2 linked regions of the Homo sapiens genome follow. The protein of the gene in region 1 interacts with the protein of each later gene in a pairwise test. Each region holds a gene or a part of one and is shown in the gene's direction. Other genes may lie near its edges. The genes, in order: C16orf54 and CLDN11.

Evidence for each region.
Region 2: the proteins of C16orf54 (region 1) and CLDN11 interact in binary tests that used the Homo sapiens proteins (3 or more experiments, as listed by UniProt).

Annotation. Positions count from the first base shown.
Region 1 is NC_000016.10:29,737,531-29,752,902, reverse strand, and holds C16orf54 (transmembrane protein C16orf54), read left to right. Parts: upstream 1-6,912; 5' UTR 6,913-6,992; exon of another isoform or gene 6,993-7,176; coding exon of another isoform or gene 7,177-7,206; intron 7,207-7,279; exon of another isoform or gene 7,280-7,419; coding exon of another isoform or gene 7,420-7,476; intron 7,477-7,517; exon of another isoform or gene 7,518-7,656; intron 7,657-7,951; coding exon 7,952-8,626; 3' UTR 8,627-8,964; coding exon of another isoform or gene 8,965-9,013; 3' UTR 9,014-10,440; downstream 10,441-15,372.
Region 2 is NC_000003.12:170,407,290-170,423,003, forward strand, and holds the start of CLDN11 (claudin-11), read left to right. Parts: upstream 1-11,578; 5' UTR 11,579-11,777; coding exon 11,778-12,003; intron 12,004-13,936; exon of another isoform or gene 13,937-14,048; intron 14,049-15,714. UniProt on the Homo sapiens protein: Plays a major role in tight junction-specific obliteration of the intercellular space, through calcium-independent cell-adhesion activity.

The DNA of each region.
Region 1 (15,372 bases):
AGCACTTTGGGAGGCTGAAGGGGGTGGATCACCAGGTCAGGAGTTTGAGACCAACATAGTGAAACCCCATCTCTACTAAAAATACAAAAATTAGCCAGGCATGGTGGCACACACCTGTAATCCTAGCTACTCGGGAGGCTGAGGCAGGAGAATTGCTTGAACCTGGGAGGCGGAGGTTGCAGTGAGCTGAGATCATGCCACTGCACTCCAGCCTGGGTGACAGAGTGAGACTCCGTCTCAAAAAAAAAAAAAAAAAAAAAAAAAGAAAAAGAAAAAGTGTTGCTAGGCACAGTAGCTCACGCCTGTAATATCAGCACTTTGAGAGGCTGAGGCGGATGGATCATGAGGTCAGGAGTTTGAGACCAGCCCAGCCAACATGGTGAAACTCTGTCTAAAGATAAAAAAAAAAAAAAAAAAAATAGCCGGGCGTGGTGGTGCATGCCTGTAATCCCAGCCACTCGGGAGGCTGATGCAGGAGAATTACTTGAACCTGGGAGGCGGAGGTTGCAGTGAGCCGAGATTGTGCCATTGCCCTCCAGCCTGGGCAACAGGGCAAGACTCCGTCTCAAAAAAAAAAGAAAAAAGAAAAAGAAAAAGTGTGATTATTGCGATTACAGATCTGAGCCACCACGCCCAGCCTGTGTAATTTTTGATAAGTAATACTAATTTAATATTTTTCATTTAGTAAAAACATCTATATCGGCCGGGCATGGTGGTTTAGTAATCGCAGCACTTTGGGAGGCCGACGTGGGTGGATCACCTGAGGTCAGGAGTTCAAGACTAGCCTGGACAACATAGTGAAACCCCGTCTCTACTAAAAATACAAAAATTAGCCAGGTGTGGTGGCAGGAGCCTGTAGTCCCAGCTACTCGGGGGGCTGAGGCAGGAGAATCGCTTGAACCTGGAGGCAGAGGTTGCAGTGAGCCGAGACTACACTACTGCACTCCAGCCTAGGAGACAGAGCGAGATTCCACCTCAAAAAAAAAAAAAAAAAAAACTGTATCTCCTGAGTTATCAAGAAATTACTCATATGTTTAAGCTTCTTACTTAGGTGAATACCTGATTGTCACAGGCTATAAAAATGATTAACAGGGAAGTAACTTGAAATAATGACTATCCTTGCCTAATATCTCAGTTTTCATAAATAATCTAGGGAAACTGTTAAAAATAAAGTATGTAATGGATAATTTATTATAAATAAATTTTTCATGTAATTTTAAATCTTCTATTATGTTCTATTAAATTAACTATTATTCATTAGATGTGTGTATTATTTCCAAGTAAGAAGAAATAACTGAAACAAATTGCTGAACATAAATGTTTTTGGCTGGCTTCTTAAATTTTATAGAATGACTAAATATACTTGGTCTTTTTTTGTTGTTGAGACAGTGTCTTGCTTTGTTTCCCAGGCTGGAGTGTAGTGGTACACCCATAGCTCACTGCAGCCTTGAACTCCTGAGCTCAAGTGATCCTCCCCTCTCAGCCTCCCAAGTAACTAAGACTACAAGCACATGCCATCATGCCTGGCTAATTTTTTGATTTTTTGTAGAAATGGGAGTCTTGCTATGTTACCCAGGCTGGTCTCAAACTCTTGCCCTCAAGCAATCCTCCTGCTTCAGTCTCCCAAAATTGTGGGATTACAAACATGAGCCACCTTGCCTGGCCTTAAACTTTTTTTTTTTTTTTTTGAGACAGAGTCTCGCTCTGTTGTCCAGGGTGGAGTGCAGTGGCATGATCACAGCTTACTGCAACCTCTTCCTCCTGGGTTCAAGCAATTCTCCTGCCTCAGCCTCCTGAGTAGCTGGGATTACAGGCATGTGTCACCACGCCCAGCTAATTTTTTTTTTTTTCCCCAGACAGAGTCTTGCCCTGTCACCCAGGCTGGAGTGCAGTGGCATGATCCCGGCCCACTACAACCTCCACCTCCTGGGTTCAAGCGATTCTCCTGCCTCAGCCTCTCAAGTAGCTGGGACTACAGGCACCTGCCACCAAACCCGGCTAATTTTTGTATTTCTAGTAGAGACAGGGTTTCACCATGTTGGCCAAGTTGGTGTCGAACTCCTGACCTCATGATCCGCCTGCTTTGGCCTCCCAAAGTGCTGGAATTACAGGTGTGAGTCACCTCACCCGGCCTTTTTTGGTATGTTTAGTAGAGACGGGGTTTCGCCATGTTGGTCAGGCTGGCCTCAAACTCCCGACCTTAGGTGATCCACCTGTCTTGGCCTCCCAAAGTGCTGGGATTACAGGCATGAACCATTGTGTAGGGCCTAAACTTGTACGTGATGAAAGAATCAAAACAGCCAGTGATATCTTAGTAAGAAAAAACCATGTCTGATCTTTCCAGTTTTTAATAATGTTAACTCTTCTAAAAGTTTGTTTAAAAAGATTGATTAAAAGAGCACATACAAGTTTTCAGGTTTTGTTTATTTTGATTTTTTTTTTTTTTACAATAAATCATTGTTTGATTGTAGGGAAACACACATAACTGCCAGGCACGGTGGTACACACCTGTAATCCCAGCTACTTGGATGGCTGAAGCAGAAGAATATCTTGAACCCGGGAGGCGGAGGTTGCAGTGAGCCAAGATTGCGTCACCGCACTCCAGCCTGGGCAACAGAGACAGACTCCGTCTCAAAAGAAAAAAAGAAATACATAACATAAAATAACATCAAAGTTACTATCATTTTTCTATATTGACCTCTAGAACAGCCAGAAAGAACATCTTAGTTATTTTTAAGCGTGTTGTTCGCTGGCACTAACTTCAGGTTTGATTTTAAGGCTTGTAATCTGGTAAAATTCTAGCCTCCTCAGGTTTCTGCGAGTGTCCTGAGCCTTAGCTTCCCCCTGTAACTGCCAAAGGGGTTCACCTTGCCCGCTGCCTACACATAGCCGATTCATCAAGACAGCAAAATTGCAATAAAGAGTAATTCACACAGAGCCAGCTGTGCAGGAGACCGGAGTTTTTTTTTTTTTTTTTTTTTTTTTTTTGACGGTTTTGCTCTTTTTGCCCAGGCTGGAGTACAATGGTGCCACCTCGGCTCACTGCAACCTCCGCCTCCAGGGTTTAAGTGATTCTCCTGCCTCAGCCTCCTGAGTAGCTGGGATTACAGGCACTTGCCACCACACCTGGCTAATTTTGTATTTTTAGTAGAGACAGTGTTTTCTCCATGTTGGTCACGCTGGTCTCAAACTCCCAACCTAAGGTGATCCACCGGCCTTGGCCTCCCAAATTGCTGAAATTACAGGCGTGAGCCACTGTGTCCAGCCAGGAGTTTTATTATTACTCAAATCAGTCTCCCTGAGCATTCGGGAAACAGAGGGTTTTTTTGTTTGTTTTTGTTTTGTTTTTTTGAGATGGAGTCTTGCTCTGTCGCCCAGGCTTGAGGGCAGTGGCGCAATCTCGGCTCACTGCAAGCTCCGCCTCCCAGGTTCATGCCATTCTCCCGCCTCAGCCTCCCAAGTAGCTGGGAGTAGCTGGGACTAGCTGGGACTACAGGCATCCGCCAACACGCCTAATAAATTTTTTGTATTTTTAGTAGAGATGGGGTTTCACCGTGTTAGCCAGGATGGTCTCGATCTCCTTGTGTCCAGAATTGGCGGGTTCTTGGTCTCACTGACTTCAAGAATGAAGCTGCGGACCCTCACGGTGAGTGTTTCAGTTCTTAAAGGCGGCATGTCCGGAGTTTGTTCCTTCTGATGTTCGGACGTGTTCCGAGTTTCTTCCTTCTGGTGGGTTCGTGGTCTCGCTGGCCTCTGGCGTGAAGCTGCAGACCTTCACGATGTTACAGCTCATAAAGGCAGTGCAGACCCAGGATAAGCAGCAGCAAGATTTATTGGAAAGATCAAAAGAACAAAGCTTCCTATGTGGAAGGGTACGCCGAGTTGCCACTGCTGGCTCTGGCAGCCTGCTTTTATTGCCTTATCTGGCCCCACCCACATCCTGCTGATTGGCCCATTTTACAGAGAGCCAACTGGTCTGTTTTATAGAGAGCTGATTGGTCCATTTTGACAGGGTGCTGATTGGTGTGTTTACAAACCTTGAGCTAGACACAGAGTGCTGATTGGTGTATTTACAATCCCTTAGCTAGACATAAAGGTTCTCCAAGTGCCCACTAGACTCAAGAGCCCAGCTGGCTTCACCTAGTGGACCTAGCACCTGGGCTGCAGGTGGAGCTGCCCACCAATCCTGTGCCTGCACTCCTCAGCCCTTGGGCGGTTGATGGGACCAGGCCCCGCAGAGCAGGGGGCGGTGCAGGAGCCCAGGCAGGGGGACGCTTGGGCATGGCGGGCTGCAGGTCCCAAGCCCTGCCCCGTGGGGAGGCAGCTGAGGCCTGCGAGAATTCAAGTGCACCTGTGGGCTGGCACTGCTGGGGGACCTGGCGCACCCTCTGCAGCTGCTGGTCTGGGTGCTAAGCCCCTCACTGCCTGGGGCCAATGGCGCCAGCCGGCCTCTCTGAGTGCGGGGCCCACCGAGCCCACGCCCACCCGGAACTCATGCTGGCCCTCGAGCGTGGCCCGCAGCCCCAGTTCCCGTCCGCGCCTCTCCCTCCACACCTCTGGCAAGCAGAGGGAGCGGGCTCCCGCCTCGGCCAGCCCAGAGAGGGGCTCCCACAGTGCAGCGGCGGGCTGAAGGGCTCCTCAAGCGCAGGGAGAGTTGGCGTGGAGGCCGAGGAGGCGCCCAGAGTGAGTGAGGGCTGCCAGCACGCTGTCACCTCTCATCCTGACCTTGTGATCTGCCTGTCTGGTCCTCCCAAAGTGCTGGGATCTGGGAGTGCAGATTGGTCAGAGATGAAATCATCAGGAGTCAGAGCTGTCTTCTTGCAGAGTCAGTTCTGGGTGGGGGCCACAAGATCAGATGAGCCAGTTTATTGATCTGGGTGGTGCCAGCTGATCCATCAAGTGCAGGGTCTGCAAAATATCTCAAGCACTGATGTTAGGAGCAGTTTAGGGAGGGTCAGAATCTTGTAGCCTCCAGCTGCATGACTCCTAAACCATAATTTCTAATCCTATGGCTAGTGTTAGTCTAGTCCCCAGGCAAGAAGGTCTGCTTTGGGAAAGGGCTGTTACTGTCTTTGTTTAAACTATAAACTACAAACTAAGTTTCTCCCAAAGTTAGTTCAGCCTACGCCCAGGAATAAACAAAGACAGCTTGGAGGTTAGAAGCAAGGTGGAGTCAGTTAAGTTAGATCTCTTTCTTTGCAAAGGCGGTTTCCCCCGGACTCTCCATCTCCAGCTCCTCCCAGCAGGGCTCAAAACCACCAGGATGGGGCAGTCTGACGGAGACTGTCTTTTCATTCATTTATTTATTTAATTTATTTATTTTGAGACAGAGTCTCGCTCTGTTGCCCAGGCTGGAGTGGAATGGCACGATCTCGGCTCACTGCACCGGGTTCAAGCGATTCTCCTGCCTCAGCCTCCTGAGTAGTTGGGGTCATAGGCGTGCGGCACCACGCCCGGCTAATTTTTGTATTTTTAGTAGAGACGGGGTTTTGCCATGTTGGCCAGGCTGCTCCCAAACTCCTGACCTCAGGTGATCCACCCGCCTCGGTCTCCCAAAGTGCTGGGATTACAGGCATGAGCCACCTCGCCCAGCCCAGGGATTTCTATCTATTCTTCCACCACCCTGGCCACTACATGCTCACCCACACATACATTGGTCATGCGACTTTGGTCATGAAATCTCTTTTCTTTAAGCCTTACTTTTGTCATCTGTGGATGAGTCAAACTAGAGAATCTCAGAAAGTCACCTGGACTCCAGAGCCTGATGACATCTTGTCACACTCTGCTCCAGGCTCCTCCCACCCTCAGCAGCAGGAAAGAGGGACAGACATGAGGATGGTCAGGGTTTTGGAAACAGGCCCACGCCTGTTTTTATACCCTGGACTCCTCTCAGAGGCTTGACATTTTTGTTACCCAAGCCTCACCTCACTGATATTTTCCAACCAAAATGGGGGCTAAATGGTCTGAAGAGAGAGAGACTTATGTTAATTAAAAGTATGAGGCAGGGGCCAGTGTGGTAGCTCACACCTGTAATCCCAGCACTTTGGGAGGCTGAGGCAGGAGGATCTCTTGAGGCCAGGAGCTTGAGACCAGCCTGGGCAACATAGCAAGAGCCCATCTCTACCAGAAAAAAAAAAAAAAGGTGTGAAGCAAGCTGGCCAAGCAGGGGGTGCCTGTGGGGGCTGCATGGCAGGAGCAGATCTGGGGAGGCACCGTGGATAAGACAAGGCAGGATGGGGTGGGGCATCCTCCCAGGAGGAACGGGGGAGGCACCATGGTTCTCTGGGAATGTACGGGCTAAAGTCCCAGTGTCCTATTTCTTTTTCTTTTCTTTTCTTTTCTTTTTTTTTAAGACGGAGTCTCACTCTGTTGCCCAGGCTGGAGTGTGGTGGCACGATCTCAGCTCACTGCAACCTCCGAGTCCCGGGTTCAAGCGATTCTCCCTGCCTCAGCCGCCTGAGCAGCTGAGATTACAAGTGCCCGTCACCATGCCCAGCTAATTTTTGTATTTTTCAGTAGAGATGGGGTTTCGCCATGTTGGCAGGCTGGTCTCGAACTCCTGACCTCAGGTGACTTGCCCACCTTGACCTCCCAAAATGCTGGGATTACAGGGGTGAGCCACTGTGCCTGGCCCCGGCGTCCTCTTTCTCAGCTTTTCGGTGAATGTTCTGGGGCTCAGGGCCTGGCTATGGGGTGACACTAAGTTCAACAGAACCATTGCCCATTCCAGCCCCACCTTACCCCAGGAAAAGCCTCCTCACCGCAGTGACCACATCCCCTTGGGTTGCTTTGGAAACAAACACTCCCCAGGGGCAGACGAGTTGGGGCACAGTTGCCCAGCAACAGGCGGTGCCCTCCCTTCCGCCTTCATCCGAGGCCGGGCCTCTACGTCTGAGAGGCGGACCGCCCTGCACCCTCCAAGCCTGCACCTCTTAGTCCAGCACCAGGAAGAGTGGCTCTAGGAGGGAGAGGAGCCCAGGGACTGACCCAAGGTGAGTTGAGGGGTGCAGGAGGCCCCCTGCAGATGGAGGATGTGGGGGACAGAGAGGTGTGCAGAGACAAACGAGAGATAGAGACAGGCCAGAGCCTGGGCAAAGCTGGGGAGCCCAGGAGGGGTGCAGAGGCGCCTCCGGAGGCCTGGCCCGGCCCGGCCCGGCAGCAGATTCCGTGGAGCCTATGAGAGCAAGATCAAGTCCGAGGAGAATGGTGAGGGGCGAAGGAGCCTCAAGGGGCCAGCGGAGGTGCTGGCGGCAGGCGGTGGGGGAGACACACGCAGGGGAGCCAGTGGGAGGGGAGGTTCTCATTTCTTCACCCACCACTTCCTCTCTAGGTCTGAGCAAGACTTGAGGGGGCCGAGTGGGGAGGAAAGAAGCCCTTGAGACCTTTCTTGTCTGAGGCACCCTGGGGTCTGGGAGGGAAATGGGGATTCTGGAAAGGCCTGGAGAGCCAGGCAGGAGGGCCTGGCTGTGCCCCGAGGTAGGCTGCCTGTCCTCCCACCCCACCTGGCTCACGCTTACCCTTTCTGGTCCCTCTTGCTTCTCTGTCTCTCCAGAATGTTCTTTTTCATTTTTGAGAAAGGGTCTTGCTCTATTGCCCAGGCTGGAGGACAGTGGTGCAATCTGGGGTCACTGCAGCTTCAAACTCCTGGGCTCAAGTAATCCTCCCACCTCAGCTTCCTGTGTAGCTGGGACTACAGGTGTGAGCCACCACACCCAGCTAGTTTTTAAATTATTTTTAGAGATGAGGTTTCACTGTGTGTCCAGGCTGGTCTTGAACTCCTGGGCTCAAGTGATCCTCCCGCCTCGACCTCTCAAAGTGCTGGGATTCCAGGCATGAGCCCCCATGCCCAGCCCTTCTCCCAGGCTTTCCTGGACACCTGCTGCCTCTCTCTCATCTTGGTTGTGCCCCCTCTGCCTCATTTACTTCCTCTTCTCACCCCTGTGTCTCTCAGATGCCGTTGACTCCAGAGCCGCCCTCTGGGCGCGTGGAGGGGCCCCCCGCATGGGAAGCAGCCCCATGGCCCTCACTGCCCTGTGGGCCCTGCATCCCCATCATGCTGGTCCTGGCCACCCTGGCTGCGCTCTTCATCCTCACCACCGCTGTGTTGGCTGAACGCCTGTTCCGCCGTGCTCTCCGCCCAGACCCCAGCCACCGTGCACCCACCCTGGTGTGGCGCCCAGGAGGAGAGCTGTGGATTGAGCCCATGGGCACCGCCCGAGAGCGCTCTGAGGACTGGTATGGCTCTGCGGTCCCCCTGCTGACAGATCGGGCCCCTGAGCCTCCCACCCAGGTGGGCACTTTGGAGGCCCGAGCAACAGCCCCACCTGCCCCCTCAGCCCCAAATTCTGCTCCCAGCAACTTGGGCCCCCAGACCGTACTGGAGGTCCCAGCCCGGAGCACCTTCTGGGGGCCCCAGCCCTGGGAGGGGAGGCCCCCCGCCACAGGCCTGGTGAGCTGGGCTGAACCCGAGCAGAGGCCAGAGGCCAGCGTCCAGTTTGGGAGCCCCCAGGCCAGGAGGCAGCGGCCAGGGAGCCCGGATCCTGAGTGGGGCCTCCAGCCACGGGTCACCTTGGAGCAGATCTCAGCTTTCTGGAAGCGTGAAGGCCGGACCAGTGTGGGGTTCTGAATCCCCAGGGTTCCCCAGAGATCCCCGAGGCAGGCCTTGCCTCAGTGGGACCGGGGACCCCAGGATCCAGCATTAGGATTGAGACTGCCCCAGCGAAGATGCCCTTCCCAGGCTCCTTCCACCTGGAGTCCCCCTCCCCGGGTCTGGGTGGTGGCCAGGCTATGTGGACTAGGGGAAGCCCAGCAGTGCCTCTGCTCAGCTACCTGGGCTGTGGCTCAGAGACCTGGGGGTGGAGCCAATGCCAGGCCAGAAGCCTTCAAGATCGCATCCAGATGAAGAACCCAAGGTACTAGATAGTCAGGAAATGGCATCGACCAGCCACCTCCACCTTCTTTCAGTGTTTACCGAAGCCACCAATACCAAAGAGAACGGGTCCTGCGGTGCTGAACAGCCTCGGTGTGGCGATGACAGCTGGCAGGAGATGACAGGAATCCAGTTTCCCAGAGCCACAAATCCTGTTCTCCTTGGCCACTCACCCACTGTGAGGTCCTCTAGGAAAATACACAAAGAGAGGACCAGACCAGGCAGAGGAACATTTTGTTTCATATGAACTGTGGCTTTGACCCCCAAACTGCAAGGAGGAACTTGCTGGGCCAAGCTGCAGCGGCGCTGTCTTGCTGGAGTGGGGACCTAGAGTCAGAGAAAACCCACAGGCTCCTCTGCCCATTCTCCTCCATCTGCACACGTCTCAGCCTCGGACCCTCACCACTCCATGGTGAGGAAGGCCATGGCCAGGGGAAACTGAGTTTCATCCAATGTGGAGAGGAGCGTTGTCCTAGAGCAGGGCAACTCCCAAACTGTGACCTCTGATCATCGTCCCTTCCAGCTTGCTGGAGTGTCCAGAGAGACAGATTTGCCACAAGCTAGGCTTACTTATAATGCTCCACCCTACAGAAATGGGACCCCAAGTACCCAATCTTCCCTTTAGGAGAGGCAGGCAGGTGGGTGAGCAGCAGATGTAGTTTCCATTTCCCTGGGGGTTTAATTTTCCAAACTTTGTCTTTTTTTTTTTTTTTTTTTTTTTTTTGAGACAGAATCTCAACTCTGTCACCCAGACTGGAGTGCAGTGGCACAATCTCAACTCACTACAGCCTCGAACTCCTAGGCTCAAGCGATCCTCCCACCTCAACCTCTAGAATAGCTGGGACTGCAGGTGCATACCACCACGCCCAGCTAATTTTTGTATTTTTTTTGTAGAGACACGGTCTCACCATACTGCCTGGGCAGGTTTCCAACTCCTGGGCTCAAGTGATCCAGCAGCCTTAGCCTCCCAAAATGCTGGGATTACAGGTATGAGCACTGCACCCGGCCACTTTTTTTTGTTTTTGAAACAGGGTCTCACTCTGTTGCCCAGGCTGGACTACAGTGGCACAATCTCAGCTCACTGCGGCCTTGAACTCCTGGGCTTAAGTGATCCTCCCACCTCAGTCTCCCTAGTAGGTGGAACTACAGGCATGTACCACCACACCTGGCTATTTTTTTTTTTTAGAGACAGGGTCTTGCTATGTTGCCCAGGCTGGTCTTTAATTCCTGGGCTCGAGAGAGCCACTCATCCCCATCTCTCAGAGTGTTGGGATTACAGCCATGAGCCACCATGCCCGGCCAAACTTCAGCCTTGAATATTAGTGATTTTGCCATATTAGTTTACCATCTGTACAATTATTTGCTTTATATTTTTCTTTAAATTGGCTCATTATTCACTTAATGAAATTATTGCAACAGGAATCTTTTGTATCACTTCTGTAAATGGAAAACCAGTCTCATTTGCCATCAATAGAAGGTAAAACATGAAAATAAATACAATGTAAACAAAATTGTTAAGATCTAAATTCTGTTCCCTGCTGGAAGCATTGACCTAAAACTCTGCTCTTTGTTTTTGTTGTTGTTTTTGAGACGGAGTCTCGCTCTGTTGCCCAGGCTGCAGTGTGATGGCGCGATCTCCGCTCACTGCAACCTCCGCCTCTGGGTTTAAGCGATTCTCCTGCCTCAGCTTCCCAAGTAGCTGGGATTACAGGCGCCTGCCACCATGCCTGGCTAATTTTTGTATTTTTAGTAGAGACAGGGTTTTACCATGCTGGCCAGGCTGGTCTCGAACTCCTGACCTCATGATCTGCCCGCTTCAGCCTCCCAAAGTGCTGGGATTACAGGTGTGAGCCACCGCGCCCGGCACTGCTCTTTGTTAACAAGAAAAGGGAATGTTGATCTGCAAGTCAGAAAGTGTTAGATACTCTAGCACCACAATGAGACCTTCTGGAAGTGCCAAGGCAGACAGACAGCCCCGCACAGGGGGCGGGATGCTGTGTTGTTTAATGCTGTCCACGAAGTTCACCCACAGCCAGGAAACACTCACTTCTCCCTGCACAGTGGGCTAAGGAGCACTTGGAGCCTCTCATCCAATCCCTTGACCTCCCCTCTGATTTTTGGGATGTTGGAAGTTGACAGAGCAGCCAGAAACCCCAGGCAGAGGGACCGAGAGCCTAGTCCAGTCTCTTCTCCCAGGTGTAGTCACTGGCCAGCATCCTAAGCACTGTTTCTGAGCTGGGCACTGGGAGGGGAGGAATAAGACCTGGGCCCTGCCCTCAAGGAGCTCACAGTCTCTCTAGCGGCAGAGTAGGGAACAAAGGTAGGGGTGAGCTAAGATATGGACACAAAACTGACACCAGGGAGAGACCAGGGCCCTGTCCCATCTCTATCACTCATGAGCTGGGTAATGACATTCCTTATCATCACCATCAGTTGACAGCACTGGGTTGTGGGGACTCTGCCCACGAGGAGTGAACAGACCTGAGAGAAACAGAAGATACAGGCAGGTGTTCAGAGGTCAGATGCTTCCATGCCATGGGTTCAGGAAAGGCACTGCAGTGTGGAAGAAATGCAGGGACAAGGCCCCAGTTCATGATCTGCCTCCATCACCTTATTCACTTAGAGACTTCAGAAAACAGAGTTTTGTATTATGGGGCCTCATGTGCTTTTTTCATGTACAAAAAGACAGCTGAAAGTTGAACAAGATGTTCTATTGGGACTTTTCTAGCTGTGACATTTGAGAATGAGTGAAGGGGGCCAGCCCCTCCACACCTGTGGGTATTTCTTGTCAGGTGGGGCAAGAGACTGAGAAAAGAAATAAGATGCAGAGACAAAGTATAGAGAGAGAACAGTGGGCCTAGGGGACCAGCGCTCAGCATACGGAGGACCTGTGCGGGCACTGGTCTCTGAGTTCCCTTAGTATTTATTGATCACTATCTCTACTATCTCAGTGAGGCGGATATGGCAGGACTATAGGGTAATGGTAGGGAGAGGGTCAGCAGGAAAACGTGAGCAAAGGTCTCTGTGTCATAAATAAGTTTAAGGAAACGTGCTGTGCCTCGATGTGCACGTAGGTCAGATTTATGTTTGACTTTACACAAACATCTCAGAGCAGTAAAGAGCAGTATTGCCGCCAGCATGTCTCACCTCCAGCCATAAGGTAGTTTTCTCCTATCTCAGTAAATAGAATGTATGATCGGGCCTTACACCGAGACATTCCGTTCCCAGGGACGAGCAGGACACAGATGCCTTCCTCTTATCTCAACGGCAAAGAGGCCTTCCTCTTTCACTAATCCTCCTCAGCACAGACCCTTTACGGTGTTGGGCTGGGGGACAGTCAGGTCTTCCCCTTCCCACAAGGCCATATCTCAGGCTGTCTCAGTGGGGAGAAACCTTGGACAATACCCAGGCTTTCTTGGGCAGAGGTCCCTGCAGCCTTCCGCAGTGCATTCTGTCCCTAGATACTCGATAATGGAGAATGGCAATGACTTTTACCAGGCATATTGCCTGCAAACACATTTTTAACAAGGTGCATCCTGCACAGCCCTAAATCCATTAAACCTTGAGTCAACACAGCACATGTTTCTGCGAGCACAGGGTTGGGACTAGGGTTACAGATTAACAGCATCTCAAGGCAGAATTTTTCTTAGTACAGAACAAAATGGAGTTTCTTATGTCTTCTTCTTTCTACAGAGACACAGTAACAGTCAGATCTCTCTTTCTTTCCCCCACAGTGAGTAAAATGAAAGACGGTTGGATGGATGGATGGATGGATGGATGGATAAATAAATGAATGGATGGAAGACTAGATGGATGGATGAATGGATGGATGGATGGATGAATAAATGGATGGATGGATAGATGGACAGACGGACAGATGGATGGATGAATAGATGGATGGATGGATGGATGGATGGGAGAATGGATAGGTGAAGAGAATGGATGTGTGGATGAGTGGATGTATAGATAAATGGATGCATTGATACATGGATTTCTGCATGCGATCTTCCTGAGGCAGAGTCTAACTTGCTATCTGCAGAGTCATCTTTATATTTCCAGACCCAGAACATGGTCTAAAACACTATAGGAGCCTAATGAATGGGGAATGAATAAGTTCATAGATTAACAGACACATTCATTTTACTGTTTCTTCTTTTTACTTTAAACCTCTCCTGCTCACTTTTTTTTTTAGACGCATTCATTGACCGGAATCCCACTCATTTTTAACACCATCTTATTTCTTTCTCATATTGATGTCTTCTTTTATATCTTTAGAAATTTAAACCACACTTGCTGTATGGTTCTTTGCCAAATAATGCTATTCTCTGGAGTTCTGGAGTTGGAGCTAATCCTGCTATATGCTGTGTCTGCTTACTGTCATTCATGAAGATTGTTTCCTCTTATGTTTTGTAATTTTGAGCTGTGAATTCAGCTTCAGCAGGGTGTTATCAGTGGGAATGCACATGCCCACCAAGGTTCAAAGAGGTTTCACATCTGCTTCTGCCAAGAGCTCTTCATGGGTGTTACCAACCCTGGACTACATTGTTATTATTATTATTATTATTATTTATTATTATTATTATTTTGAGACAGAGTCTTGCTCTGTTGCACAGGCTGGAGTGCAGTGGTGCGATCTCAGCTCACTGCAACCTCCACCTCCCAGGGTCAAGCAACCTCCACCTCCCGAGGTCTCCTGCCTCAGCCTCCCGAGTATCTAGGATTACAGGCTCCTGCCAACATGCCCGGCTAATTTTTGTATTTTTAGTAGATACGTAGTTTCACCATGTTGGCCAGGCTGGTCTTGAAATCCTAACCTCAGGTGATCCTCCCACCTCAGCCTCCCAAAGTGCTGGGATTATAGGCACGAGCTACCACACCTGGCCTGGACTATATTATTTGTTGACATTTGGGCTTCCCAGACCATGCAGATGATGTAAACTTGAACCCCAAGTCCAAGTGAGGCCAAGCCTTTGGTTATGAATTCTCAAAAGAGACCATTTATTGTCACCAAATCTCAGAGTGAAACAGACAAGGTCCTTTTATGCTCCCTGAACTGGAGGCAGATTTTTTTCCTAGTTTACTCTTTCACCAAGGATGTCACCCCTTAAGGGTACAAGCTTTCTATTAGTGTTTATGTTTTCAGTTCCCCAGACAAGGCCTTATCTCCAATCTCTAGGTAGGTGTAAAGCCCTAGGCCCTTCAATGCCAAGATCACAGCCACCCAGCAAGTTGCACAGCTCTAGTGTTCAGTTTCCTCTTCGTGCCTCCTGGGGATTTCCCTTTCTTTTTTGCAACTAAGCTGCATGTTTTAAAGGATGTTTGTTTGGTTTTATGCAGCGCTTCTAGATGCATAGTGGTGAGGACATGCTTGTCAGGTTATTCCATTCACACTATCACCCAAAAGGCTATTTCCCCATATAAATAAGTTGACATCTCTCCCACCTTAAAACAACCAGCCAACCAACAACTCTTTTTTTTTTTTTTTCTTTTTTCTGAGATAGGGTCTCACTCTGTCACCCAGGCTGGAGTGCAGTGGTGCAGTCACGGCTCACTGCAGCCTCAATCTCCTGGGCTCAAGCCATCTTTCTGCCTTGGCCTCCCAAGTACCTGGGGTTACAGGCACATGCCACCAGATCTAACTAGTATTTTGACTTTTGTAGGCATAGGGTCTCACCATGTTGCCCAGGCTGGTCTCAAACTCCTAGCCTTAAGTGATCCTCCCTCCTCAGCCTCCCAAAGTGCAGGGATTACAGGGGTGAGTCATGTCCAGCTCCAACAACTCATTCTCTACCCCTCACACACAGCACGACTTCTCACCTCCTTCACAGCCAAACGTCTGGGAAGAGCCGTCTGTCCTAGCAGTCTACACTTTCTCATCTTCCCCTCCCTCTGCAACTGGTTGCAGGCTTCCATGGGCTTCCAGCACTCTACAGAAACGACTGCCATCAAAATCATGACCTGCTGTTTTAATCAAAGGACACTTTCAAGCCTCCTGCAGACAGCACTGGACACTTCTGGAAATGTTCTCTCCCCATGGCTCTGTGGCTTTACACACACCTGCTTTCCCTCCCCGCTACCCAGCCGTGCTCTCTGACTCTCTTTGCTGGCGGCATGCCTTCTCAAAGGTCAGTCCTGGGCTGCTTTTCCCCTCCCTCTGCACTCCTTCTGGGAAATTTCACCTAGGCCCAAGGCTCCAATTGCTATCTCTTTTTTTTTGAGACGGAGTTTCACTCTTGTTGCCCAAGCTGGAGTACAATGGCATGATCTCAGTTCACTGCAACCTCCGCCTCCTGGGCTCAAGCAATTCTCCTGCCTCAGCCTCCCAAGTCTCTGGGATTACAAGCGCACACTACCATGTCCAGCTATTTTATTTTTTTTTTTTGAGACGGAGTCTCGCTTTTGTCGCCCAAGCTGGAGTGCAATGGCATGATCTCAGCTCACTG
Region 2 (15,714 bases), on another chromosome or scaffold:
AGTCAATGCCTGGTTTCAAAGCTTCAAAAGAGAGCCTGACTCCCTTTAGGGGCGAATGCAGCTGCTGACTTTATGTTGAAGTCAATGCTTATTTACCATTCTGAAAATCCCGGGATCCTTGAGAACTATGCTAAATCTACTGTGCCTGTGCTCTATAATGCTACAACAAAGCCTGGATGACAGCACATCTGTTTACAGCATGATTTACAAAATATTTTAGGCCCAGTGTTGAGACTTACTGCTCAGAAAACAATGTTTCTTTCAAAATATCACTACTCATTGACAATGTATCTGGTCACCCAAGAGCTCTGATGGAGATGTACAAGGAGATTAATGTTGTTTTCATGCCTGCTTACACAACATACATTCTGAAGTCCATGAATCAAGGAGTCATTCTGATTTTCAAGTTTTATTATTATTATTTTTTGAGGTGGCATCTCGCTCTGTCACCCAGGCTGGAGTGCAGTGGCGTGATCTCGGCTCACTGCAACCTATGCCTCCCAGATTCAAGCAATTATTCTGCTTCAGTCTCCTGAGTATCTGGGATTATAGGCATGTACCACCACGCCCAGCTAATTTTTGTATTTTTAGTGGAGACAGGGTTTCACCATATTGGTCAGGCTGGTCTTGAACACCTGACCTCGTGATCCACCTGCCTTGGCCTCCCAAAGTGCTGGGATTACAGGCATGAGCCACCGCGCCTGGCCTCAAGTTTTATTATTTAAGAAAAAGATTTCGTAAGGTTATAGCTGCTATAGATAGTGATTCCTCTGTTGGATCTGGGCAAAATAAACACAAAACCTCTGGAAAGGATTCATCATTTTAGATGACGTTAAGAACACCCATGATTCATGGGAGGAGGTCAAAATATCAACACTTACAAGTTAAGAAGTAGAGTCCAACCCTCCTGCATGACTTTGAGGGATTCAAAACCTTAGTGGAGGTAGTCACCACAGATGTGGTGAAAATAGTAAAAGAACTAGAATTAGATGTGACTGAATTGCTGCAATCACAGGATAAAATTTGGACAGATGCAGAGTTGCTTCTTATGGATGAACAAAGAAAGTGGTTTCTTGAGATGGAATATACTCCTGGTGAAGATGCTGGGAATATCATTGAAAGAAGTTTTACTGTAGGTAAAATGCTATCAAATAGCACCGCATGCTACAGAGAAATTTTTTTTTTTTTTTGAGATAGAGTCTCACTTTGTCATCCAGGTTGGAGTGCAGTGGTACAATCTTGGCTTACTGCAACCTCCACCTCCCAGGCTTAAGTGATTCCCCTCTTGCCTCAGCCTCTCGAGTAGCTGGGATTACAGGCACCCACCACCACGCTGGCTAATTCTTGTATTTTTAGTAGAGACAGGGTTTTGCCATGTTGGCCAGGCTAGTCTCGAACTCCCAACCTCAGGTGATCAGCCTGCCTTGGCCTCCTAAAGTGCTGGGATTACAGGCATTGTTTTCTTATTTTAAGAAATTGCCGGCTGGTTGCAGTGGCTCACGCCCGTAATCCCAACACTTTGGGAGGCCAAGGCAGGCAAATCACCTGAGGTCGGGAGTTTGAGACCAGCCTGACCAACATGGAGAAACCCCGTCTCCTCTAAAAATACAAAATTAGCCATGCGTGGTGGTGCATGCCTGTAATCCCAGCTACTTGGGAGGCTGAGGCAGGAGAATTGCTTGAACCCAGGAGGCGGAGGTTGTGGTGAGCCAAGATGGCACCACTGCACTCCAGCCTGGGCAACAAGAGTGTAACTCCGTCTCAAAAAAAAAAAAAAAAAGAAAGAAAAAAAGAAATTGCCACAGCCACCTCAACCTTCAGCAACCACCACCCTTATCAGTCAGCAGACATCAACATAGAGGCAAGACCCTGCACCACCAAAAAGATTCTGACTTGCTGAAGGTTCATATCATTATTAGCATTTTTTTAAGCAATAAAGTATTTTAAAATTAAGGAATATACATTTTTCTTCCTCTTTCTTTTCTTTTCTTTTTTTTTGAGATGGAGTCTCGCTCTGTCACTCAGGCTGGAGTGCAGTGTCACGATCTCTGCTCACTGCAAGCTCCACCTCCCGGGTTCAAGCAATTCTCCTGCCTCAGCCTCCTAAGCAGCTGGGACTACAGGCGTGTGCCACCACGCCCAGCTAATTTTCATATTTTTAGCAGAGACAGAGTTTCACCATATTGGCCAGGCTGGTCTTGAACTCCTGACATTGTGATAGGCCTGCCTCGGCCTCCCAAAGTGCTGGGATTACAGGCATGAGCCACCGTGCCTGGCTGGTATGTACATTTTTAAAAGTCTTACTGCTATTCTACACTTAATAGATTACAGTATAGCGTAAACATAACTTTTGCATGTACTGGGAAGCCAAATAATTTGCATGACTTGCCTTGCTGTGATATTTGCTTTATTGTGGTGATCTGGAACTGAACCCACATTATCTCTGAGGTATGCCTGTACTCTTTATAGATCCTTATATAATACTGAATATTTAAAAATACTTAAAATATTTTAAATTTTAAAATTTAAAACTTTTTTTTACTCATGATCAAAAGAATTCACGTTCATTATGGAGAACTGGAAAATGCCTAAAGAACAAAAGAGAGGAAGAACTCTCAATCTCACTACCCAAAAAAGTTGTTAACATTTCGGTGTATATTTTTCAAATATATTTATATATATTTTAAAAACCAATCTCCAACTGTACAGATATTTTGGAAGTACATTTAGCAATTTGTATTTTCAAATTCATGTTTTATTTTATTTATTTTTTTTGAGACATGATCTTGCTCTCTTGCCCAGGCTGGAGTGCAGTGGTGCGATCTCTGCTCACTGCAACCTCCGCCTCCTGGGTTCAAGCGATTCTCTGCCTCAGTCTCTGGACTATCTGGGGCTACAGGCCCACGCTACCACACCCAGCTAATTTTTGTATTTTTAGTAGACACGGTTTCTCTACGTTGCCTAGGCTGGTCTTGAACTCCTGGCCTCAAGTGATCTGCCTGCCTCGGCCTCCCAAAGTACTGGAATTACAGGTATGAGCCACAGTGCATGGCCAAGATTCATATTTTATAACATATAATTTACTTCTAAATTGAACAGTTAATTGAAATGTAAATAAAAACAATTGAATACTTTATAATTAGTTTATTAGATACATTTTTAGAAGCTGGATCAAAGAATGTACATATTTTAAATCCTTTTGCTATATATTGCAAATTGTTTTTGAAATGGGGCATGTCAGCCGTGCTATTGGTATTTTGTAAACTTCATCCTTTGTCTGTCAGTAAAGTTAATTTTTATCAAATCATTTATCTAGAACTAATGAGAGACTGCAAGAGCCCTCCAGTGGCCAAGCTAATTTCTGCAAAAATACCATCATCAGAATGAAAAAGGAATTGTATGCAGTTGTTAAATCTTGACAGCGAAGAGAAGGGATGGCTAGAATTATTTTAGCTGTTTAAAGGGCCATATGCTGTACTTGTAGGTGAGATCACATTTTCTTTCCTTTCAAATTCTTATTCATATGTTACCAGATTTTGAAACATTTTGAGTTTCACTGCTCTGTAATATGAAGGTTAAGATTGTGTTTACAGATCAGTTGAAGCCAGGAGTTCGAGACCACATAGTAAGACCCTGTCTCTACAAATGATAAAAAAATTAGCCGGCCATGGTTGTGGGCACATATGGCCATAGCTGCTCAAGAGGATGAGGTGGGAGGATCACTTGAGCTTGGTGGGCAGGGAGTGTCAAGGCTGCAGTGAGCTGTGATAGCCCGCCACTGCACTCCAGCCTGGGCTACAGAAGGAGACCCTGTCACAAAACAAACAAACAGGTTTACAACCAACTGATTATTTTTTGGTATAGAAGCCAATAGTTATTGAGTACTTACTATGTATTAGACACTACTCCAATAATTGTACATTTAGGAACACATTTAATTCTAACATTCGAACAGCTATTATGAAATAGTTACTGTTGTTTTTTGTTTTGAGACAGAGTCTCCATCTGTTGTCCAGCATGGGGCGCAGTGATGCGATCACAGCACGTTGTAACCTCCAACTTGTGGGCTCAAGTGATCCTTCTGCCTTAGCCTCCTCAGTAGCAAGGACTATTAGTAGCTATTTTTATTTTTGTAGAGACAGATTGCTGAGGCTGGTCTGAAACTCCTGGCATCAAGCAATCTTCCTGTCTCAGCCTCCCAAAGCGCTGGGATTACAGACATGAGCTACTGTGCCCAGCCAGTTACCGTTGTTAACACAATTTTTCTGGTGAGGAAATAGAATATTAGTTATTAAATGCAGTTACTAAACAAAAAAGTTAAACAGCCTGCTCGAGATCACACAACTAGTTAGTGATGGAGCCAGGATTCCACCCTATTCCCCTTACTACTCTACTCTGTTGTCTGCTTTGGATCTTGGTGCCCAACAATGTCCTCATTCAGGATAATTTAATAAAATAGAATCTTTATTTACATAAGAAACAAAAAGAAAACAATTGGTGTCATTGAGACACAGGCTTCTCTTGTAGACAGTTTTTTATGGAACAGTGTAGCATTGATAACATGATTGGTGATTTTTTATTATATATTGAATGAATAATAAGAGGACACATGATTGTTTTGATCATTTTATTATTCATGTTTTCAGTAAAAGACTTAAAAGTCAACAAATTGCTCTGTGTTTCCATGTCCTAGGTAGCTAAATGCAAACACCTGTTCTTTTTTTTTTTTTTTTTTTTTTTTTTTGAGACAGAGTTTTACTCTGTCACCTGGGCCGGAATGCAGTGGCGCGATCTCAGCTCACTGCAACCTCCGCCTCCCGGATTCAAGTGATTCTCCTGCCTCAGCTTCCTGAGTAGCTGGGTTTACAGGCGCTCCCCACTACGCCCAGCTATTTTTTTGTATTTTTAGTAGAGACAGGGTTTCACCATGTTGGCCAGGCTGGTCTTGAACTCCTGACCTCATGATTCGCCCGCCTCAGCCTCCCAAAGTGCTAGGATTACAGGTGTGAACCACTGCGCCTGGCCGACAAACACCTGTTCTTTATTATTATTATTATTATTGGGAGCCAGAGTCTCACTCTGTTGCCCAGGGTGGAGTGCAGTGGCGTGATCTTAGCTCACTGCAACCTCTGCCTCCTGGATTCAAATGATTCTGGTGCCTCAGCCTCCCAAGTAGCTGGGATTACAGGCACCCACCATCACACTGAGCTATTTTTTGTATTTTTAGTAGAGACAGGGTTTCACCATGTTGGCCAGGCTGGTCTCGAACTCCTGACCTCAGGTGACCTGCCTGCCTTGGCCTCCCAAAGTGCTAGGATTACAGGCGTGAGCCACCGTGCCCTGCCCCTTAATTATTAAGATAGAGAATTTAAAGATGTGGCTTTTTAGTTAGATTATTTCCTTATTTTTCACTTCAGCACTTATATACTCTATTACTACTATGTTTTCTGAAAATGTAATCGCTAGTTGAATTTGGGCTAAAAATAAGGACTTTTGCTCTTCTTCAGGAACTATGATCTCATAGGTTGAATTAGACAGGATATCATTTAATGCAGTCTGAGACTCTTGGCAGAGAAGTGGATGAATAGAATTGCTACTTGAAGAGAGAAAACACTCTGAGAGGATTCAAGCCTAAAACTCCAGGTACAAGTTTTTCATTATTTTACTCTATCTACAAGCTGAAGGAAGGGAAATTTGGGATGAAATGGCTTCTGAAGGAATGATATTCTAGTTGCACTGTGAAGAAAGGGCAAGATATGGGGGAGCACCTGGAGCCCTGTTGTCTGTTCTAGAGAACCTGGTGTGTTTTCCACAGTGATTGTTGGAGAAATTTCCTGAAAAGGAATTTTTTCCCCTCTCGTAGCTGAATTTGAATCTCCAGGTGGAAGTGAATTGTGAAGGTGCCACTCTTCTCTGCTGGAAGTATATGCATTGAGGCCAGCGTGTCTAGGTAATTAGAGACTTTTCTGTTTGAGACCTGAGCAGTACACATCCCTTCTACTGCTGAAGGCTTCACTTTCCTGTGGGCGGCAGGTGGGTACCCGAGACCACAAAGAGCTGTACTCTGCCTCTTGCCCACTCCCTAGACCAGCTCCAATCACCACCTCCTGATTTCTTCTGCATGGTGTCTTCAGGTTCTCATCCTAGTGGAACTTGTAGGCTTGCAAATTCAATCTCTCCCTTTCAACCCTTCAGTCAGCTCCATTCAACAGGTATGTATTGAGTGCCTTTGTGTATGCCACGTACTGTGCCACATTCAACAGTTTCGGTGATGAACAAAATAGACAAAATCCTGAAACTTACAGGTCATTTCATTTTTAAAGCCTATGTTTGATATTCTTTTTATGCTATGAATTTGTTCTACAGTATTTCTAAAAATGTGTGTATGTGTGTATCATCAAATATTTAAAATCCACCAGAGGAATTTATCCCTTAAAAAGAGGTCCCCAGGCCGGATGTGATGGGGAGCTGAGATGGGGGTATCTTTTGAGGCCAAGAGTTTGAGACCAGCCTGGGCAATACAGAGACCCCTCCCCCATCTCTATAAAAAATACAACAATAAAAAAATTAGCCAGGTGTGGTGGTGTGCACCTATAGTCCTAGCTATTCAGGAGGCTGAGGTGGGAGAATCACTTGGGCCCAGAGTTCGAGGTTACAGTGAGCTATGTTTGTGCCGCCACACTTCAGCCTCCAGGGGGACAGCAAGACTCTGTCTCTAACAAAATAAATAAATAAGTAAATAAGGGCCTAGTAGAAGTACTTGATTTTTTAATTGAGTAATCTTGCTTAAGTAATTTCATATATGTCCTGTGTTTTCATGTTTGGTTTTCTAAAGAGGTGAATCATCTTTTTAAAATATATGAAGAAAACTTCCACAGAGAAATGCACATTCCAGTTGGGTTTAATTATCCCTCATTTGGAATGTGCAAAGCTGAGGTTAATCATGTTTCTCTACAAGTTACAGCTCCCTTCAGTTTTTTACCAGCCATGCAATGATAAAAGATAACCACTAGCAGGCGCTAAGAGCCTACTCGTTGGCCCAAACTTTGCTCTCAATGTGGGGTTTTGATGCTTGCCAGCAGTCACATCTGCTTTGTGGTATGCATTCGTGCTGTATCTGAATAGCATTTTAGTTTGATTGACTATTTTTGGGTGTAAATGGTAGAAGAACAGTTAACCAGGCCTTTTCCTTTGTTTAGTTCACATCTGGGTTTTAGGGCCTTACTGGCCCTAATCCCCTAATCCTCCCCTTCAAATACCTTTGAATAAGAGTAAGATGAAGGAACGAACTTACGCTCAAGCCACAGAGCATATGACTCATCTTATATTTTTTTTTATAATGGAAAAAAACATTGGACTTAGGGTTAGAAGACCTGAAATCAGGTCTCAGCTCTACCTTCCTAGTTCTGATATGTACTGTGGAAATGTGAAAAGATGGCATGGCAGAGTTTGCTGAGAAAAAATTAACTGAGAAGACCTTTGTCTGGATGGTCTGGGGACCAACGATTGACGTTTATCTGAGGGTGATTAGACCTTGAGAGACTGACTCTTACAACTAAAGGGTACCTGAGACTGTGACAGACCCAGAATATCAGTTTAGTAAGTTGTGCTGCATGGGAAGTCAGGTCTTAATCACAAAGAGGGTTTGGGAGGAGAGCCACAGCCAAGCAATGTGGATGATATTTTTTTTTTTTTTGAGACAGAGTTTGCTCTTGTTGCCCAGGCTGGAGTGCAATGGCATGATCTCGGCTCACTGCAACCTCCGCCTCCCGGGTTCAAGCGATTCTCCTGCCTCAGCCTCCTGAGTAGCTGGGATTACAGGCATGTGCCACCATGCCTGGCTAATTTTGTATATATATATATATATATATATTTGATATGGAGTCTTGCTCTTGTCACCCAGGCTGGAGTGCAATGGCACGATCTCGGCTCACTGCAACCTCCGCCTCCCAGGTTCAAGAGATTCTCCTGCCTCAGCCTCTTGAGTAGCTGGGATTACAGGCACCTGCCACCACGCCCAGCTAATTTTTGTATAATTTTGAAACCCCGAGACGGGGTTTCACCATGTTGGCCAGACTGGTCTCGAACTCCTGACCTCGTTATCCACCCGCCTTGGTCTCCCAAAGTGATGGGATTACAGGGGTGAGCCACTGTGCCTGGCCGCAATGTGGATGATTTTAGCAAAAGTCTCAGCTAAGATAGCTTGAGGGACTTCCCCACCCTACAGAGCCTTGCTAATGGCACCGCATCCTCAGAGTCTGTGAGCCACAGACTCTGAAAATAGTCAAGGATTCCCATTGCGTCTCTCTGCCTCTTGGCCCCCAGTTCTCTTTGCTTCCATGGCTTCCTGCCTTCCTTTTGAAGGGACAAGCCCTCTCTTTACCTTGGGCTAATGAATTCAAACAGGTTACATCTTGTGGCCTCCTCAAGTGGCCTTTTGTACATCTATGCTGGAATGGATTAGACACTGGCTTTACAATTGCTTTCATTGGATAATAATAATACCCTAATTATTTAGCTTGTATCTCTACCAAAGGGAACTCCCACTTCCAATTAATCTACGCTTCCTATAAATCATTCTAACAGTGTCTAATGTGAATGAGTGTCCAGCAGTGCTGGGCACTATGCTGAGTACTTCATATAAATTATCTCACTTGATCCTCACCATGCCCTAAGGGGGCATTTACTATCTCACTTTGTACATGAAGAACCTGAGAGTCACGTAGGTGAAGGGCCAGCTCAAGTGGTGAAGACAGAATGTGAACCTAGGAGGTCCCAGTCCAAGACAGCAATCTTAACAACTTGGCAATTTTTTTTTTTTTTTTTTTTTTTTTTTACCATTTAGTGCCTGAGTTCTGAAATCTGGCTTTACAAACACTATGTGTGTGTGACCTGTGGATGATCTGGGCATTATTATATTCTGATTGGTTGAAGTTTCATGGTTCGAATGTCAAATTCTAATGGAGGCATAAGAGTGCAGATTCCATGAGTGCTTTTACAAGAAGTTGATGTTGCTTGGGTTTTATGTTTTATGTTGTATTTAGCACAAAAGCCATTTTAAAAAAGTGTTATAAGGAAATATCTGAAAACATTCAGTCCATAGACCCTGGTGATGAAACGTCCCCCAAACACAATGGCTCACTCAGAACATACTCCTATGGAATAGTTTCCACAAATCAAACTCATACGAATATAGGGAGGATACATAAGAATGCAAAATCAGGCCAAGCCTGCTGGCTCATGCCTATTATAATCCCAGCACTTTGGGAGGCCAAGGCAGGTGAATTGCTTGAGCGCAGGAGTTCAAGACCAGCTTGGGCAACATAGTGAGACCTTCTCTCTACTAATAATAAGAAAGATTAGCTGGGCATAGTGACTCATGCCTGTAGTCCTAGCTACTCAGGAGGCTGAGGTGGGAGGATCACTTGAGTCCCGGGGTTCAAGGCTACAATGAGCTGTGATCACGCCACTGAACTGTAGACAGGGTGACACAGATCTTGTCTCAAAACAACAACAACGGCAACAACAACAACAACGTTCTGAAGCATCACATTAGCCAGGGGTTTCTGAATACTTACTTTGTACCAATGTTACTTTAAGTTCTGCATATATATTACTAGGTTGGTATAAAAGTAATCGTGGTTTTTGCCGTTATGTTTAATACTTTGCACCAACCTAATAGCTCACAGAATAAAAAAAAAAGTCTATGAGGTAGGTACAGTTTTCATCCTTATTTTACAAATGAGAAAAGGAGGCCAAGAATGATAAAGTAACTTGGTCTCACAGCCAGAAAGTGATGGAGCCAAGATTTGAACTTGGGCAGTTGGACTGTGTTCTTAGTCACTGTGCTTCCTGGGTGATTACTGTGACCCTTGTACTTGACACTCTGCTATCAATTACAAGAGCCATTTCTGTGTGTGCACTTGATTTCCTTGGGGTCTCCAGGGAAATGTAATTGTCTCCTCAAGTCCAGGCTTTCCTAGAAGACATGGTGATTGCACTGATAACCAGCATTAGGGCTGGCTTTGGGAAAGCTCAGTACCTATGATTTATGGTTAGTATCTTAGATTTTAGAACGCTGAGCAGGAAGTTTTTGTGCTTTCTGAAATCCTCACACCTTTAAGTCTCATGATTGGTGAGGAGGCAGTGGTCCAAGGGAATGGATAGAAGGAGATAATAAGATAAGCCAAATGTTTCAAAGGGAGTGAAAACTGTTGAATGTAAATGCAGCTCAAGGAAGACTTCCCTATCTGAATAAAAAGGTGCAAATAATGCGGCCTATTTGTATGCATGGTGGCTTAATGATGTTGATGGTGATGATGATAGCTTTACACTATCAGAGCGCTCATTCTGGGCTAGGCAGTTTTCTCAGTGGGGTACAGATATTAATTTATTTACAGTGAGCCAGAGAAGTCTGCTGTAGCTTTTAATGCGTCTAAAATGGGACACATGAACCCCTTAGGAATTTTCAGACTGATCAGGACAGTTTCCTAGAAACAGTTCGTGAAAGGGATGAGATGGGCCCATGGTATCTACCCCTTCCTAGCTGCGTGAACTTGGGCAACTCAACCTTCTTGTGCTGTTTCTCTATGGCTAGTGCGTGTAATTTGTTGTTGTTGTTGTTGTTTGCTTTTGAGACGTTGTCTCACTCAGTTGCCCAGGCTGGAGTGCAGTGGCACGATCTTGGCGCACTGCAACCTCCTTCAAGTTATTCTCCTGCCTCAGCCTCCCAAGCAGCTGGGGTTACAGGCATGCGCCACCATGCCCGGCTCATTTTTGTATTTTCTGTAGAGATGGAGTTTCACCATGTTGGTCAGGCTGGTCTCGAACTCCTGACCTTAGGTGATCCGCCCACCTTGGCCTCCCAAAGTTCTGGGATTACAGGTGTGAGCCACCACTCCCGGCCTAGTATGTGTCATTGACAATTGTTCCTACCTCAAAGGCTGTTATGAGGATTAAATGAGCTAATGCATGTAAAATGCATCTGCATAATATATAACACAGCTCGATAAATGTGAGTTGCTATTGTTGATTATTATGGCCACGTTTGCCGCTGATGATGTTCAACCACTGAAAAGCATCGTTTTCTTTCTTCTAGTAACTGTGTGTACTGAATGCCTCGCGTTTGTCCCTACTGCACTTTTCAGTCTGTCACAATCCTGGGTCGTCGGGGGACTGTACCGAGCGCCCTTGGAGTGCTCGCAGCAGGGAAGAAGGAGCGAGCAGGGAGGAGCTGAGGAGGGTCGGAGCGGAATGGACACCCAGAGACTGAGATGAGAGAGGGGCTATAAGAAGAGAAACCAGTCGCAGGAAAACAGAACTCTCGACAAACGCACGCCCTCTTTGCGCTCTCCGTTTCTCTGGACCTGGATGGAATTGTTTTACTTTGCATCGCCGGACTGCGCTGCGGACGGGGTGGGGCGGCCCAATGGCCCCCCTGGGGTTACTCTGCTCCCCTTCACGCTTCCCTCCCGGCCCCGCCCCGCGATTGGCCGGCGCGCCCCGGGGCTGCCGCCGATTGGTGCTCGCCGGCCGGAGCCGCGGGGCTTAAAGAGGGGGCGGGGGCGCGCTGCCCAGCAGCGCTGCTGTCCCCGCCGTGCGCCCTTCGCCGCTGAGCTCGCAGCCTCCGGCGCCCACCTCCACCTCCAGTGTCCCGCCTCGGGCCGTCGCCCTCCAGCGGCTCGCGAGCGTGGGAGACGTACCTGGGCAGGCACTGTCCAGCCCAGGCCCAGGCACAGCCGTGAGGGGCGAGGCACGGGGACATCCTGGCGGCCACCATGGTGGCCACGTGCCTGCAGGTGGTGGGCTTCGTCACGAGCTTCGTGGGCTGGATCGGGGTCATCGTGACCACCTCCACCAATGACTGGGTGGTGACCTGCGGCTACACCATCCCCACCTGCCGCAAGCTGGATGAGCTGGGCTCCAAGGGGCTGTGGGCCGACTGCGTCATGGCCACGGGGCTGTACCACTGCAAGCCCCTGGTGGACATCCTCATCCTGCCGGGTAAGGACCCGAGCTTGGCGGCGGCTCCCAAATCCTTATCCTCTGGGTAGAGAGCGGGATATTAGACGGCGTCACAGAGACATTTTGGGGGCTTGAAGACCTTTGGGTACGTTTTTGACATCCCTAGTCCCACCTTGTTGTAAAAGAATTAGGCAGCCCCGAACTTAACTTCTCTAGGCCGCAGTATTCTTATCTGGAATTTGAGATAATAGTGGCAATGTGGCCGGTGGTAACACTGGCCGGGTCCCTTTGAGAATGAACAAACCGGAACACCTAATAGGAACTGAGTCCGTGTTAATTACTGCGGTCCCAGCCCGCATCCTTCCACCGTCCGCTTCCCGAAGTGCTTCCCGCTCCCGCCCGGCCTCCCCCGGGGCGCCGAGCCTTCGCGTTAGGTTCCGCCCGCAGAGGTGAGAAGGAGCGTGTAACACAAGCTGACAGGAGAATCGAACCGGCTCAGGCTGAGTTTCTCGGTCCTCATGGGATGGGCGAAGCGCCCCCGGCCAGGTTAGAGCCCTCCTAGCTCCGTCCGCGCAGCCGCTGAGCAATTCACGTCCAGGGCTCTCTGGGCTGCCTGGTTTGGGAAATGTCACGTTGATTCCCGCACGTGCCCAGGGCCATCTCCGCTGCCCCCGCTACCCCCGCCCCTGCTGTGGGCGCGTCAGACTGCGGGGCTGCGGTGACGCCGGCTCCCGCTCCGCGCCGCTGGGTTGGATAGGGACGAGCGGGCGCTCCTCGGAGGGCGGACTCCACTGGGGAGATACGGAGCGCGCCGCCGAGGGTCGCTCGCCGCCACCCCTCCAGCGTGTCTCAGATTGGGAAGGGGAGGTAAAAATTGACAGCCTAGCGCCGGCCAGGGGCCACATTTTCACATGTGTCCTGTGGAAACATTTTGGGCGACAGCCTCAATTCAGATTTAAACCAATGGGTTGGGCAATGGCGAGGTCGCGGGCACCCCCTTGGTTTTCTGCTGGAATCTCTGCTCTACCCCCAAGGCATGTCCCTACAAGGTGGGCTTCTGTCCCCCAGCCTTCGTGGATTGTGCTCACTTAAAGGATTTTCCCGGTTTCCTCAAGATGGGGAGAAACCTGTCCCTGAAGCCGCCAGTCAGATAAGACTGTGCTCGCCCCTTAAGCCTCCTCCAAGCACGCCCTATTTCCGGTCCTCGCAGTCGGAATCTGAATCCCTCCTTTCTCCTTGCTGCCTAGTACTTGGCTCTTATCCTCACAAAGGCACATTTTATCTTGTTTTTTGTTGATTGTTCGTGAGTGAAGTTCTCCCACTACGTTTTAAATTCCTTGAAGATAGAGATGGCGTCCTGTTATTCTCTTTGCTTCCTCTTCTGGACCTGGCATGGCCTCTGGCACACAATAGCTGCGGGCAGTGCTTGCCTGGTTTGCCTTACGCTATCCTTTCCTTCATTTTGAACTTTCAGAAGGCCAGAGGTCAACGAACGCAGATCTAGACTCAGCTTTGGCTAATGCTGGTGTTGGCAGACCCGGGCCAGCCTCCGGCATCCAGGACTCACAATCTGGGTGAGGGGGGACAAATTGCTAGCCTCAGTGAACCACGGTTGTCTTCTTTTAAAAGTTAAAATCAGATCAACCACCCATCTTTCACGATTATTTGAGGATTAAATGAGATAAGAAATGTAATCTCCTTTGAGATAGTAGATGCTTCATGAATGGTACCTATAGTATTTTATTAAAAGCTGGGCATGGTATTTGTAGGGATCTTTGAAGCATAAAATTAACTTTGTTTTCTTCTCCTGAAATTAACTTTACTGAGCATTCAGTGCCAAGTGGTTTGTTTTCAGAGAACAAAGGCTGTCCTCCAGAGGGGAGTGCATACTCTGGGGGTGGGGGGGGGGTGGGGGGCGGCGCTAGTCCTTCCTGCCTTCCCCCTCCCTCATACTTTGGGTGGAGGCAGGAACAGTCCTCTGTCCCTATCTTTTGGTGTCCGGACATGGCCTTGGCACTGTAGCATGTGGACAGCCAGTGCCATGGATTTCAGAACCTGCATTGCCAGTTGACTGCCTGCTTTGTGTGAGTACTGGCTCTCTACAAGCCGCAGAGGCGGACGGCTGGGTCAGGGGATGGGCCTCAGACTTCCTGGAGCTCCTTTCTGGAGATCTTCAAGTCAGTAGACACTTGACTGATTATCTTTAATTCTGAAGGAGCTGAGATGGGCAGTGCTGGAAGAGGGCCCTTGTGAAGTCCGAATTCTGGCAAAACGTTCCTTGCTAAGAGACAGCGTTGAAGTTAGGCCTTTTTGCACGTGAGGGTCGTGGTGTGTGAGGCAGATGTCGGCTAGATTCCTGGCTTTGCTATGAACTCTGCCTCACCCAGGCCACTAGTACTAGTTCCTTCTGAGCAAAAAAGGGAGGGTAATAAATGTGACCCCCCCCACCTTTTTTAAGAGGAGGGAGAGTTTTAATGAGAAACATTACATTTGAAAGTGAAACAAATTTGTCTGTGAAATTCTCCCAGTATCTTGTCAGATTTATTCTAAATAAATGTGACACATATTGTAATCTGTTTCTTAATACAGTTTTTACTTGGCATTTTACTTGACAGGATAAAGTTCATGTAGTTTTGCTCTACTCTTCTATTTTTCAGTTCTCTTATTCCTTGATTCGCAATTGTTTCCATGATCTGTTGTGGGCACTGTGTTAACTCCGTGAATACCAAGGCAGGTGTCTGCCCTCCAGGAACCCTGAGGGCTGGAGAGATGCCTTTTAAGCAATGATGGACAGTTGGGGAAGGATGCCCAGGGCACTGTGGGTGAGGCAGGAGATGGGGTCCAACAATTTAGGGGCAGGATCCATGAGGACAGCAGCCTCTGGGGAGACAGCAAAGAGAGGAAGCCTGAGTCTTAGTTTAGTCTGGGTTAGGGCCACAGCCAATGTGAATGAAAGCACATGGTTAGGAGAAAATCACCTAGGACACCTGAAGATGAAAGCGCTGCACTGAGACAGACAAAGAACACCAATGATAACAACTAACCTTTTTTGAGGATTTGGTATAGGCACTGTTTTAAGCACTAAATAAATTAACTAATGTAATCTTCAGTAGAATTCTATTACAGAGATGTAGGTACTATTATATTATTATCAATACTTTGTTTGTTTATTTATTTATTTATTTTGAGAAAGAGTCTCGCTCTGTCACCTGGGCTGGAGTGCAGTGGCTCGATCTCAGCTCACTGCAACCTCCCCCTCTCAGGTTCAAGCGATTCTGCTGCCTCAGCCTCCCCAAGTAGCTGGGACTACAGGCTCACACCACCACACCAGGCTAATTTTTGTATTTTTAGTAGAGATGGGGTTTCGCCCTGTTGGCCAGGCTGATCTTGAACTCCTGACCTCAGAAGATCCACCTGCCTTGGCCTCCCAAAGTGCTGGGATTAGAGGTGTGAGCCACCATGCCTGGCCTGTTGTTACTTTATAGATGTGGAAAATAAGACATCATGGTTAAGTAACTTGCCCAAGGTCACACAGGTAGAGCTATCAATAGCAGACTGGAACCAATAGAGGCCCTCACAGAATGATTCTTGGGAGATTTCAGTTTTCATCTGAACTTTCTCAGGGGGATGTAATAATGTAAATGGACTCTTGGCCCCTCCATCCTGGAAGCTTGGCCAAGTGGCCTAAACCAGGGGTCCCCATTTAGTTTCTCCAGCCCCCTTTTTTCTTGCTGAGTTGTTTTAAAAGTT